2 linked regions of the Homo sapiens genome follow. The protein of the gene in region 1 interacts with the protein of each later gene in a pairwise test. Each region holds a gene or a part of one and is shown on either strand. Other genes may lie near its edges.

Region 1 (7,508 bases):
CTTCCAAGTGTATGGAACTTTATAAATTTGAGTAGGACTTATGGTGTGAGGTCACTATTTACATCCCTAGGTTTTCTGGACTCTGGTTCTCAGGTATACCATGCTCCATAAACTAGAAGAACAATCTAAAAGTTAAAAATAAACTGCTGTGTGTCAACTCCAAATAAAATCCTAAGCCCATCACGGACTGAACAGAGCCCCTCTTGGCCTAGGGGACCCCAGAAAAATCCTAAAACTGAGCTCCTGGCCATGACAAGATGGGAGGTCTGACATGCCCTGTTATATTCGTTGTGTTTTCAGGTTTAGAGACAGCAACTTACCAGCATTAAAGTTAAAATAGAGATCATAAGAATGACACAACAGATTCTTTGTGCAATAAGATACCAAATTATAAACAAGACCTAAGGCCATGCCAGGCAAGGGTTAAGTTACACACTCCTACATTTAAAGAATAAAAGTTATATTCTGCCACAAGGTTTTTTTTTTCTCCAGCAGCTAGATGAACACTGGCCTTGAGATAAGCAATATTAAAACAATTGCAGCTCATCCAGCTCACAGAGGCTGACTACCTGACCCCTGTTCCACCAGTTGTAACTACAGCTTTGATTGGACAAGAGACTGATTTCAGTAATTTTCTCCAGATAAGACCACCAACCGTGGACTGCTCCTGGCCAGTTTAGCAGGATCACACACTTGAGTGTCTTGGTGTCCTGAAAAGACTTTTTGACGTATAGAGCCTAGGTGTGATAGACTTAAATGTTAGGTCTCCACTCCAAAGTGAACAGGGTTCATATGTGGTTACATATGTTTGTTCAATATGCATGTGTCAGGACAACCTTCAGGAATATTCACAGCTCCTCCTGTAACCTGTCGAATGTGTATGTTTAGCAAACCTGTTCAGCATGAAGCTCTACCCCAAACCCTTCTCCTTCAAAGTAACTGTCTCTGGTCTTGGTGGGAGGCACTCTTCCCTGTTGGGTGGCTGTAACCCTTTGCAAGAGATAAAGCCTCTTTTCCTTTTTTCCAAATTTATAAATTGTGTGTGTTTAAGTTAACGTGTGAGTTTAGGACTAGTAAGAAAATTATATAGCGAAGGAAACAGCAATCTTGGTGTTGGGTTGCAAGAAAATAATAGGTTTCAGTCATTGAGCACTTACACCGTGAACTGTGCCAAGCACCTAACATATATTACCATTTAATCTTTACAATGAGGTAAGCAGGCACTATTAATATTTCCATCTTACAGATGAGGGTTGGAACAGAGAGGTTAAACAAGTTTCTTAAGGTCACACAGCAAAGTTGGCAGAGCTGAGATAAGAATCATGGTCTGCTGGACTGCTGCAGTGCTACCTCATTGTTTGAGACTATTTTAATGAAGTTCCCATTTTTTGAGAAAGAAAAGCATACCATATCCACTTTTGTCTTCAAGTTGTATGGAAAATACAATTAGATTACATACTTTTTGTTTTTTAATTTATTATTTATTTATTTATTTTTTTGAGACAGGGTCTTGCTCTGTCACACAGGCTGGAATGCAGTGGCATAGTCATGGCTCATTGCAGCCTTGAAATCAAAGGCTTAAGTGATCCTCCTACCTCAACCTCTCCACTTGGGCTCAACTGATCCACTCACCTTGGCCTCGCCTCCCAAATGCTGGGATTACAGGTGTGAGCTACAGCACCCAGCCTTTTTTTTTTTTTTTTTAAGGCTTAGTTCAACTCTTGTTGAGTAGTAATTTCAGTTAGTCTGATTTAAATAAAACCAAAATAGATAAATAATCTAATAATGGAATGACTTTTTCCCATCCTCATTATTATTTTCTTGGTCCACGGTTTATCTGTTGTCAGGTTAACCTCTTGGGCCTGAAGTGGTAATAAACTAACAGGCTTTCTTTGTCACTTTGGCAATACAAGTTTCGGTATTGTTCTCTGCTACCCAGTGGGACAGATATTAAAGTCAGCAATGGCCCAAGACAGTGTGAAACACCGCCGCCCCCCCCCGCCAACTCCCCGCCCCAAACAAGCAATAAAGAGATCTAGAGAAGGAAGGGTGAATTGATGAGCCCTTCAGGGAGAGCTGGATCACAAAGGTGGTCTCTGTCGAAGATCAGAGAGACTGAGGGTCTACTGGACATCACAGGCCATTATCATTTGGGCCAAGATCCACCCATCCTCTTTATTTTCTCACTCTCTCTCAAGAGGAGACTCCTCCGGGGTTTAGAAAAGCTGCATGGATGCACCTCTCCACTTTTCTGCACAAGTATGCCTTCCATTTCACAGAAGTGTTATCTGTTAGAAATCCCAACAGATAGCTGATGAGGACAGAGCCTGAGCACTTCTGAATTGCTCTGCCAATTTCTCAACCTAATTTCCCTAAAGCTTAAGGGCCTCTTAGAGTGTATACAACATCTATTTCCAAATTTTGTCCTGGCCCTGGCCCAGCCCAGCCAAGCCCAGCCCAGCATAGGTGTGCTGTTAAAACTTAATCAGGAGAAAGGGATTCTTATCCTGGCCCTACCACTTAGTAGCTGTGTGACCCTGGGTAAGTCATTTACACTTTTCAGTCTCGGTTTCCTCATCTGCAAAATGGAGATAGAAATATCAACCCGAAGGGCTATTGTAAGAATTATATGACAAAAAGTGAAGGCTCTTTGTACAGTGCTAGGCTCATAGTGGCTGCTCATTCGCTCATCCATTCCTTCGTTCCTTGAATTCACCAAGCCTTCTCCATCTTCCTAGCTCCCCCTTGTCATCGCCTCTCGAAACCTTTTCCCCCCAAAAGGTTGCCTTCCAGTTATCTTCCTTCCATCCCACCTCCATTTTTCCAGACTCTCCGGATCCTCTCAATCAGAAGCAACACAGACACCTACATCCCTCTTCTCCCCCATATTCTCCTTACCTGGCGACCGGGCCCCCAGCACAGCAGTGGCAGCAGCAGCCGCTGCCGCAAACAAGCTCCCCCAGGACAGCTCCAGCCCGGAGTCCACCTGAGCCATTTGTCCCCGCCCCCTCCCTCAGCCCTGCTCCAGGATTGGGCCGTTTCCGTCAGTACTCTCTCTGATTGGCTGTCCCGGTTTCGCCCGAGCAGGAGATGGGGAGTGAACCCCTTTACTGCCAATCAGCGGTTGCCGCTGCCTAAGCCTCTCCCCAGGTACGCCGCTCACGCCGTAAGCCCTCCTGTTGGACCTAGCGGAACTCCGGGTTTGGAGTCAACCTCTTAGGGGCGGAGAAAAAAACAGCGGAAAAAAAAAAAAAAAAGAAGACTCCCTTCAGCTGAGGGCAGGGCTCTGCGCCCGCGCTGCGCGGCGGTGACGACATTCGCCCGCGTCCGCAGCTGAGCGTTATGAGCGCCTGCGCAGTGGCTCCGAGCGGGCGGTTGCTTGTTGGTTGTTGTAGTAACCGGGGAAGCAGCCGTCGGCGGCTGCCCTGAGCCTTCCTGGGGAAGGAGGAGGGAGGTAGGCGCAGAGCGCGGTCCACGCCTGCTCGCCCCGAACCATGGGAAGATGAGACAGGTAAACGCCTGCGCCCGCGCGCTTCCCTACCCTAGGGAGGAGCATTCCCGGGTCCGGGCTGGCGCCTGCAGCAGGACTTCCCGCTCAGAGCCCGGGAGTAGCTGTTGGCTTCCGGGCGCGCCGCGTTGAATCGCGGCTGCGGGGTCGTCCCGTCCTTCCCGGGGGGAGCATCTGCGGACCTACGTGGGATTGGGGTGAGCTGGGGGTGGGGCTGAGAAGCAGATTCCTTTCGGGAGAGGAGTCTCCTTAGGTGAGTATCTCTACTCTTCTTCCGATAGACCTGTTTCTCCCCGCTCTGCAGGCAGCCTAGGAGAGGTTGGCATCCCTTCCCGTTTGGAGGTTTTGTTTGTTTAAACTTAAAGGGCTTCCCAGCATTTTGGGAAAGATCAAGAAATCCCGTTGAGAATCCCCTGAAGAAAGCCATTGAAGTTGTTAGACATTGCCTATTGCGCCGAAGATCTTTGATCATTATCGGGGTCTGTTTTTTTTTTGTCTTATTTACAGTCTCATCGTATTTATGAATGCATGGAAAAGTTAAGAAGGATTGACAGCAAGTAATTATCGCTGAGTAATTTGGGATTATGGTCATTTAAACATGTTTCTTTTATTTGTAGTTCCTATTTCTTCTTCTGACACACACAACGAACATGTACTTTTTTACTTTAGAAAAAATATTTTAAGTTAGAAATGCAGTGTTGGAAATTTCCTAATTTCATCGTCTATTTGAGAGTCGTACCAAACTTTGTGATTTTTAGGAAGAATAATTTTTAAGAGTGGAAGGGCATTCCTCCCCTCCCCCACCTATTTATATGGACCTTTGATTCAAGAGAATATATTCATCTTTCGGTTCATTGTTGAATTTATTTTACTGGAAACATGATGGCATCTTGTCAGCGTGCTTGTCATAGAGTCTAAATAAATGTTGGCAGGGGTTTTTTGTTGTTTTTTTTTTTTTGAGACGGAGTTCACTCTTGTTGCCCAGGCTGGAGTGCAATGGCGCGATCTTGGCTCACCGCAACCTCCGCCTCCCGGGTTCAAGCGATTCTCCTCCCTCAGCCTCCCGAGTAGCTGGGATTACAGGCATGAGCCAGCACACCCGGCTAATTTTTTGTATTTTTTTTTTTTTTTTTTAGTAAAGACGGGGTTTCTCCATGTTAGTCAGGCTGGTCTCGAACTCCCGACCTCAGGTGATCCGCCCGCCTTGGCCTCCCAAAGTACTGGGATTACAGGCGTGAGCCACCCTGCCCGGCCTGCAAGGGTCTTAAACCTTGAGTTTTTATTTATTTATTTTTAACCCAGGCCAGGTTTGTCTAGCAAGGAATATATGTTTTAGGGAATCAGTCACCTGCCTCAAACTGAGTGAAAGTGAGGAGTCTATCCTTTTGGTGCATATTCGATTTAGTAAATAATGAGAAACTCAAACTTAGTAACAGCTCTTCAAATATATAGAGCACAGACTGTATGTTTGAAAAAAATCTTGATTTTTGTGGCATATTGAGGCACATATTGAGGCACATTCCATATGTTATGGAAAGTAAACTTCTAGAGGTTGAGCACTGTTTAGGAATATAGTCATTTTCATTACTTAGATTATCAGCAATAACCAATAAATAGACAACTGCATTGTGTTTCAGGTCAATTGATCCAATCAAGTTGATTTCTTGCAGGAATCTGTGCCATCCAAATTGCTTGATCCAGTGAATCTGCTAGGAAAGGTCTCTGAGGCCCCCGTCTGCTGACTGCATGACAAACCCTAAAGGAAATGCCAATCGTGATGGCCCGGGACCTGGAGGAAACAGCATCATCCTCAGAGGATGAGGAGGTCATAAGTCAAGAGTAAGTAATAGCAAGCCTGCTTTCAACCTGTGCTTTGTACTCTTTCACTTATATACTCTTATATACTGTTTTACTATATACTCTTCTCTTTTACTTATGTACTCTTTTATCTAGTGTCATTCCTTGGGGATTATCTAACTCTGGTTTTAGCTTCTATCCATAATGTCATTTAAGGTCTTGTTACTCAGTCCCTATCAGCTATGAGAAATGAGATAAGGCTCTCTTTCTGGGCCCATAAGTGAACATCAGCTCTAGATGTTGTAAAATGCAAGTAGTAGCTCTTGGTGAACTCTTGCTCAGAACTCCCAACAGAAGATTTTGAAATGTTTAAGTATTGAAGAAAAGCATGTCCAAACTCTACAACATTAGTTACGTTTGCTAATTTTCTCAAAAGCCTTTACAATGATAAAATGGTGGTAATATAGAGAGGTCAGGTAACTTACCATAGTAACTCTGAGGCAGGATATTAGAGTTCTATAGCCTGTGTTGTGTCCATTGACCCACACTGCTTTCCTGAGTTCTTTTAGTTAAGAGTCCAATTTCATGATTACTGGATCATCACAATAAGAATGAATAATAGCTAGGTGTGTTGGCTTATGCCTGTAATCCCAGCACTTTGGGTAGCCGAGGTGAGCGGATCACCTGAGGTCAGGAGTTCAAGACCAGCCTGGCCAACATGGTGAAACCCCATCTCTACTAAAAAAACAGAAATTAGCTGGGCGTGATGGTGGGTATCTGTAATCTCAGCTACTCGGGAGGCTGAGACAGGAGAATGGCTTGAACCTGGGAGGTGGAGGTTGCAGTGAGCTGAGATCTCACCATTGCACTCCAGCCCGGGCAACAAGAGCAAACCTCCATCTCAAAAAAAAAAAAAAGAATGATAATGATAAATATAGCTACTACAGATGACGATAAAGGCTTTATCTCATCTATATCTTATATCTTTTTAAATCTGAAGGTGTTATTATTTTCACTTTTTTAAACTCAGTCTTATCAGGAAATTTCCTCAGTGACCCATAGAGAGTAAGTGATGCATTGAGATTTGGACTTAGCTTTTCTGGATTTTGATCACTTTGCTCTTTTGCCTCCTTTAATTATTGCTTGACACAGAGTAAAGAGAGAATCTGGTTTAAAGGTAAAATTCATTTTTAAGATTCTCCCTGAGTCCTTTTGGATATGTGTGTGCTATGTAACCTGAAAAATAGAGATAATATCTCCCAGGCTATTTTGTAGGGGTCTGGTTAGACTCAAATAGCATAATGTATGTGAAATTACTTTGTAAGTGCTATACAAATGTAAGGCATTATTTTTACTGGTTTTAATATTGAATTTATGGTGGGCTTCTTGTAAGATACAAGATTACTTGTAATTTGAAAAAAATTGTTGAAGCATTAAGAAAGCTTTGAGGAAACGTTTCTTATCACTGTTAGGTCATAGAAACTAATAGAGATTTGAAAGTATATTTGGGTCATTCTTGTTCAGGATAATTAAATGGATAATTCCCTCTGGTTACTTTCCCTTCTTCTGACTTTTTGCTTTCGGTGTGCTGCCTCTTACCCATTTCATAAAACTTTTAACTTCTGCTGCAAGTATCAGTCTTTCCCTTTTTAAAGGTTGTTCTTTTACTCCATTACTGTCTCTCTTATTAGTGGGTTTACAGATTGGGCCTGACAAATGTTAGATTGAACTATATGAAACTGCCATTTTGGTAGGTCAGAAACAGTCAAATACTGACGATTGCAGATAGTTTGACCTAATATTATAGTAGGTACTTAGTAAATTCTTGCTGACTGAATAACGAAATGAAGGAATAAATGAAGGCTTTATACTTTACATTACCTTAGATCAGAGTTGTTAACTTTTTTATGCCATGGATTCCTTACCAGAATAATGTTTTTAAGGCTTAAAATAAAATACATATTATTACAAAGAGTACTAATTACATTCAAATGCAGTTATTAAAACACATTTGTAACATAGTAATATGTGCTGTTTTACTAATACATTAAATAATAAGATCATTTCAAATCTGGGAAAGTTAAATTTTGTTTTCTAAAGACAACAACATGAAGACTGTTTTTGTTTAGTTTGTGTAAGATCAGTACACTGGGAGGGTGGCCTTTGATTAACAATCATAGGTCGGGGGTACTGGGAAGCAGCA
Region 2 (7,035 bases), on another chromosome or scaffold:
GAAGTAGGCTGGTGATCACAGTACCTTATTGATTTACAGTCATTATCAAATCTCCCAGGAAGGAGTTTAATTGCAATTCAGGAGAAATAATGATGTACAAACCAACTAGAAAGAGAACCAAAATAGGACTGACTCTCAAAGCACATTGCTAGCATCCACCAAAAAGCAAAGTGGTAGAGAAGCAGTGAGTGGGATTAGGGGTGAGAGAAGATGGAGAACATTAGGACAGGCAAGATAGGCAATGGTTAGATGGAAGCTAAAAAATAAGAAAAGGAAGCAGCTATGGTCTAAGTGGAAAGAGAACTGAAAGAGGAGTCAGAAGACCTGGATTCTTGCTGTCTACCTACCAGCTAGGTTTCCTTATAATTTAGTAAAGCTACTTAACCTCAGAGACCCTCAGTTTCTTCTTTTGTAATGTGACCTCACAGGACCAGTTATAGAGAAGAAATAAAATAGTTAAGTGAAAATACTTCGTAAACCATATAGTTCTAATGAAAGTGTCAAGAATGAGAAGAATGGAGAAGTTAGAAAAAGGAAGAGTGGGGAAGATAACCTGTCAAGGATAAATAAGTGATAGATACCATTCAGCTTCATTAAAAGCCACGCAAGCAGCATCTGAGTTGGGTTTTTTTAAAAAGAAGAGAAAAAGGCAATCATGCATACTGCCGGGTTCAACTTAGATACACGAGCTATTGGGCCACCGAGGAAAACGGTGTGGTAGTAAGCATCTTGCTACTACCGCAAGCTGGTGGCATCCATGAGCTATGGGACTGGAAAAATTTCACACTGAGGCCAATTTTTCTAACTATAAAGTTAAAAAGGTCTATATCCTCTCCCTTATTTCAGAGGGATTGTGTGGAAAATTACCAATAAGAAGAGTCTTGAATTTATTGCAAATATTTTCTTCAACAAAATCAGACTCTTTAATGTGTTAACGGTCTGGTTTTGGGCCAGGCACAGTTGCTCAGGCCTGTAATCCCAGCACTTTGAGAGGCTGAGGCTGGCAGATTGCTTGAGCCCAGGAGTTCAAGATCAGCCTGGGCGACATGGCAAGACCCCTGTCTCTACATAAAATACAAAAATTAGCCAGGCATGGTGGTGCATGCCTGTAGTCCCAGTTACCTGGGGGCTGAGGTGGGAGGATTGCTTAAACCTGGGGCAGTTGAGGCTGCAGTGAGCTGAGATTGCACCACTGCACTCTAGCCTGGGAGACAGAGTGAGAATCTGTCTCAAAAAAATAATAATAAATAAATAAAAATTTAAAAGTCTGGTTTTAAGTACTTTCCTAGGGATGGAAGAATGAAAAAAATGAGCTTTTAAGGTAAAGCCCTAAACCTATGGAATATGGTCTTTCCCTATAAAGGGAGGTCCCAGGTCTGAGGGACCTCTCTCTCGCTGAATCCCAGTCACCTTCATCTTCTTACATTCCATAAAGCATCTTTCCCCTCTCTTGTCCCTGGGTGCTGAAGGATGTCACACTTGGACCTGTCACTTAATTAAAATGAAACACGAGATATTGACTAAAGTTTTTTCCAGTTTCTCTGCTCCCTCAAAATCTAGGGGAAAAAAATCTGAAAATTATGCATTCATAGGCGAAGTATTTGGAAAGCACCTACCCATCCCTCCCCTCTCACACTGCTCATTTACTTATGATCCATCTCAGACTAAACATTTTTCTTAGTTTAAATATCAGTCTCAGATGCACTCTCCTTTTGGAGGATATTTCAGAGTCACAGATCTTTACATAAAGGAAGTTCTTTAAGTCTACCTCATGTTCTTCTCCCTGCTTTTTTGGCCAATTTCTAGTCATCTGAATCTATCAGAGTTGACCTCAGCCCAGTCCGTGCTTGTGAAAGAAGCATTGCCATAGACAAGTTCAATGTCAGTCTTTTCAGAAACAAAGTTATCCACCGGGCGCAGTGCCTCACGCCTGTAATCTCAGCACTTTGGGAGGCTGAGGTGGGTGGGTCATTTGAGGTCAGGAGTTCAAGACTAGCCTGGCCAACATAGTCAAACCCTGTCTGTACTAAAAATACAAAATTTAGCCAGGCGTGGTGGTGCACACCTGTAATCCCAGCTACTGGAGAGGCCGAGGCATGAGAATTGCTTGAACCCAAGAGGCAGAGGTTGCAGTGAGCCGAGATCACACCACTGCACTCTAGCCTAGGTGACAGAGTGAGACTCCATCTCAAACAAAAAAAACAAAAAACAAAACAAACAAAAACATCCATCCCAGGAAGTGTAAACTGGGCAGCACCTAAGGCTTATTTCTGCTCCAGTTTATCCTCTTAAGCCTCTTATTCAGTTGAGCCCTGTATGAGTCTTAGTTGCCTCCTGTATGTAAAATGAGGAATAATACTGGTGCACAGAAATTTTGAGAGGAAGAACTCAGGAATTTCAGTCCTAATGCCCAGGTGGTGTGCCCACAGGGAGGGCACACATACATTATCGCAATAGGATCAGGAACGTGTCCAGAAACATGTTGCATGACTTTTTAAGAGCCACTTAAATTACCATTGGTCCTTCCCAAGTCTCCTGTCCTTGTCTTCTTGGAGGGAACCTTAGAGACCCATCAGGATCTAGCTCTGGAGTACTAAGCTCCAGAGAGCATGTTAGTCCATGCTTCAGGATCTTTCTGTCACTGGAGAACCTAGACAGGCGTGCTTCACTCTGATGCTGTAGCAAAGTGGGCCATGAACCTGACAAAACTGACTTCAGGGAATCCAAGTTCATGACACACTTTTGCTTTAACCCGAACTAATCACTCCTGCTTCCTTCTATTAAGACTTCCATTCTCTTGCAGTAATGGAGAATGAACCAGTTCCAGCCAGTTAAGGGCAGAGGGAGGTGCTAACTCCAGCACTTGTACAAAGTCATTTGGAGCACAGGGGAGAAATCCAGTTGGCTTTGGAGTGTCTTGTTGGAAAACTAGGAGAGGGTGAGGTTGAGTCTATGTAGAAATGTTGGCTTCTCAGTTCTGGCAGAGTCTTATGGTGCGTAGAGGTCTGATGGAGTTAGGGAGTCAGAGGTGAAAGCTCAGAGGCAGGTGGATGTATGGATGAATGAATGAACAGAACAATGGATGCATGAAGGGAAGCGATGGGGCCCTTGGGGCGCCCTCCTGATGCCATTGACATTGCTGAACATGGGATGTCCAGTCCCTCAGGTGTTCAGGCCACCTACCAAAGATAAAATAACTCACTGAGAATTTCCCACCCAGTCCAGCCCAGCCCAGCCCAAAAATTCTTTGACCAAAGAAGGGAGTTGGAGAATCCTGTGCCTCTGTTACCATGGGCAAGTTCAGATTGCCTCGACACTCAGGTCAAAGCAGTTCACCTTCCGAAGCGCTGACATCATACAGAGCTTTCTGACTTAAAGAATTACCCTGAGGGCGGGGACCCCAGGCAGGGTAGACAGTGACCTAAGGGACCAAATTTAAAGTCACTTCAGTTGTGGGCAACAAAGTCACTTGTACAACCTGCCATCCACATCTGCCTTCCCCTCCCATGTTCCTGTAGGTCACCTCATGTCACACTGCTCCTGTTCTATTCCTCCACTGGTACCGCAGAGTTCTCCTTGTTCTCAGATGGGATGGCAAGGTAGTCAGACCTATAGAGGACACAGGGAAAGGGAATCAGAGCTTCAGTGCCCAGCGTGGGAACACAAGATGGGGAAGGAGCAGGGCACAGGAGCAAGGATCTACAGAACAGCTCTGCATTTCCTTCTGCTGTGTTTCTCAAGAGAAAAACAACCTTTTCTGCAGATTAAAATAATCATTTCCCCCATATATGTACACGAACACCCACCAGGAGTGTATAGCTTCTCATTTATCCAGGTTGTCTTCAGCATTTAGTTAGATTATTATGTTGGCCAAGGCTCATGCCTCTAATCCCAGCACTTTGGGAGGCCAAGGCAGGAAAATTGCTTGAGCCCAGGAGTTCAAGACCAGCCTGGGCAACATGGTGAAACCCTGTCTCTACAAAAAATACAAAAAACTAGCCTGGCATGGTGGCACGTGCCTGTAGTCCCAGCTACTTGGGAGGCTGAGGTGGGAGGATCACCTGAGCCTGGGAGGTCGAGGCCATGATTGCACCACTGCACTCCAGCCTGGCAACAGTGAGACCATGTCTCAAAAATAAAATAAAATGTTGGTCAAAATGACAGCTGTGAAATTATATTTTATAGTTGTTTCACATGTTTACAGGCTATTTGGGTTTCTGCTTCTGAAATTTGTTCATCTGCTTTCCAGTTCTTCTGAGATCTTTGTCTTTTTCTCATTGATTTTCCTTTGATGCTTTCATGTTTTGACAATTTCTCCCAATCTCTTGTTTGTCTAGGAATTTTGCTTATGGAGTCTTCTAATGAACAGCTGATTCTTTACATATAATGTGATCAAAATTATTTTTCCTCTTGGATTTGTGCCTTTTGTATTTTATTTGGGAAATCCTCTCTATTGCATGGTGATAAAGAGAGTCTCTTATATTCCCTTAATGGAATTTTCAAGTTTGACATTTTACTTTGTGTTTAAATCCCCTCATAATTTATTTTGGTTTAGTATGAGAGATGGGGAATCTAATTTTGTTTTGTGTTTTTCTTTGTTTCTATATAGATTAGGAATTTTCCCTAGACCACTTACTGGGCAGTTCATTCTTCCTTCAATCACTGTAACGTCATCTCTCTCACATATCAGGTTTTCCTACATGCATTAACCTGATTGGTGGCTTTTTGTTTTGTTTGTCCATTTCGTATGCCTGTGCAGTATCACAAACTCTGTATTCTGATAGCTCTGTAAGAAACCTTCATCTGGCTGGGCGCAGTGGCTCACACCTGTAATCCCAGCACTTTGAGAGGCCAAGGCGGGTGCATCACGAGGTCAGGAGATTGAGACCATCCTGGCTAACATGGTGAAATCCCGTCTCTACTAAAAAAATACAAAAAATTAGCCAGGCGTGGTGGCAGGTGCCTGTAGTCCCAGCTACTCGGGAGGCTGAGGCAGGAGAATGGCGTGAACCTGGGAGGCAGAGCTTGGAGTGAGCCGAGATCGCGCCACTGCACTCCAGCCTGGGCAACAGAGCGAGACTCTGTCTCAAAAAAAAAAAAAGAAAACAAAGGAAACCTTCATCTCCGATAAGACAAATCCTACCAACCTCTTGCAAATTTACTGCTCTTTCTTTGAAATGGTTTAGACCGAGGGTGGGCAAACTGTGGCCTAAGAGCTAAGGATGGTTGTTTGCAAACAAATAGAAGAACAATACATGACAGGGACCTATGGCGCCTGCAAAGCCTAAAACACTTATTATCTGGCTGTCCCTTGGTTAAGACTATTTTTGGCTACTTAGCCTTCCATGTGACTTAATATCAGCTTATTAAGTTCTTTGAGAAATCTAATGGGCATTTTGATTGGGATTTCATTGAATTTGAAGATCAATTTGGGAGAAAATTGTTTACAATTGTGAGGTTTTACTCTCCATCTAGTTACGTTTAAAGTCTTTCAGTAAAGGTTTCTAACTTTTTCTTTAAATGTCTTGTATATTTTTGTCAAATTTATCCCCGGAACTGGGGAGTACTTCTTGCTATTGTAACTTTAAAAGCATTTTAATATTTTAAATATTTAAATTTGTTACTAAATTTGTTGCTGGAATATAGGTGATTTTTATATTTTGATTTCTATCAACAATTTTGTGGAATATTCTTCCTTGTCCTAATAGTATTTTTGTAGATTCTCTTAGGTATCCTATGTAAATAGTAGGTATAGATAATGATAATTTAGTTTCTTCCTTTCCAAGTCTTTTTCTTCCTTGTATTTACTTGGTCTTCACCTAGGATTTCCAACACAATATTGATAGAAACAGGGAGAGGCAGTCTCCTTGATATGTCCCTGATATTACAGGCACTTGAGGTTTCAACACATAGATGATATTTGCTGTAGGGTCTCTTAGTAGCTGCCATTTATCACTTTAAAGATGCTTGGTGTTTAGGTGTAGATGTATTTTATTCATCCTGCTCAGGGCATATTATGCTTCTTGAATCTGAAGAGTCATCCCTCCCTCAGCCGTTCTGTCTCTGAACACTGTCTCTCCTCCATTCTCTGTTCTATTCTGTTTTTTTTTTTTTGAGATGGAGTCTCGCTCTGTCGCCGAGGCTGGAGGGCAGTGCCGTGATCTCGGCTCACTGCAAGCTCCGCCTCCCAGGTTCACGCCATTCTCCTGCCTCAGCCTCCTGAGTAGCTGGGACTACAGGCACCCGCCACCATGCCCGGCTAATTTTTTGTAGTTTTAGTAGAGACAGGGTTTCACCATGTTAACCAGGATGTCTCGATCTCCTGACCTCATGATCTGCCTGCCTCGACCTCCCAAAGTGCTGGGATTACAGACGAGAGCCACCGCGCCCGGCCAAAATGATGCTTTCTTTATCAAACATTTCTAACTGGTAATAGCCTAGACTGTTTTCGGTTTGCCTCAGCAATGTTGCTAGAAATCTGTGGGTTTTTTCTATCTTTCCTTTCCCCAGACAACCAGCCAGCATGATCTCTTAAGACTCTTTGTTCTTACAGACCCCACCGTTTCTCAAATGTGCTCACCCTCAAGTGACTAGAGTCTCTGAGCAAATGGCTAAGGTACAGGCTGGACTTTAGAGGATTAGAGTCCCCACTCTGGACATCTAAGCGCTGCCAGGCTCTAGGGGAAATAACATGTTGCTTGGAGCTCCTTTGCTAGCAAAGGGCAGTGCCCAGATGGCCTGAGGAGCTCCATGGTATAAAGCAAACAGTTCAATGAGATAGAAAGAGCATGGACATTAGCACTAGAGAGACCTGGGTTCAAATCTCAGCCTTTCCTCTTACCATCTGTGTGCCTTGGTAAGCTGCTATGAGTCGGCTTGGCATTTACAGAACGGTTATAATAATGTTACTTTTTTGTTGTGTTTTTGGGCTTTTATTGTTGTTGTTTTTGAAATGGAGTCTCGCTCTGTCACCCAAGCTGGAGAGCAGTGGCACGATCTCAGCTCACTGCAACCTCCGCCTCCCAGGTTCAAGGG

What was found. The genes of interacting proteins can lie anywhere in the genome.
Region 2: the proteins of ERG28 (region 1) and SCN3B interact in binary tests that used the Homo sapiens proteins (3 or more experiments, as listed by UniProt).

Annotation. Positions count from the first base shown.
Region 1 is NC_000014.9:75,657,877-75,665,384, forward strand, and holds the start of ERG28 (ergosterol biosynthetic protein 28 homolog), read right to left. Parts: upstream 3,001-7,508; 5' UTR 2,899-3,000; intron 1-2,898. Other genes in the region: tubulin polyglutamylase TTLL5, read left to right, coding at 5,274-5,347.
Region 2 is NC_000011.10:123,630,598-123,637,632, forward strand, and holds part of SCN3B (sodium channel regulatory subunit beta-3 precursor), read right to left. Parts: intron 3,610-7,035; coding exon 3,546-3,609; 3' UTR 3,524-3,545; intron 3,180-3,523; 3' UTR 1-3,179. UniProt on the Homo sapiens protein: Regulatory subunit of multiple voltage-gated sodium (Nav) channels directly mediating the depolarization of excitable membranes.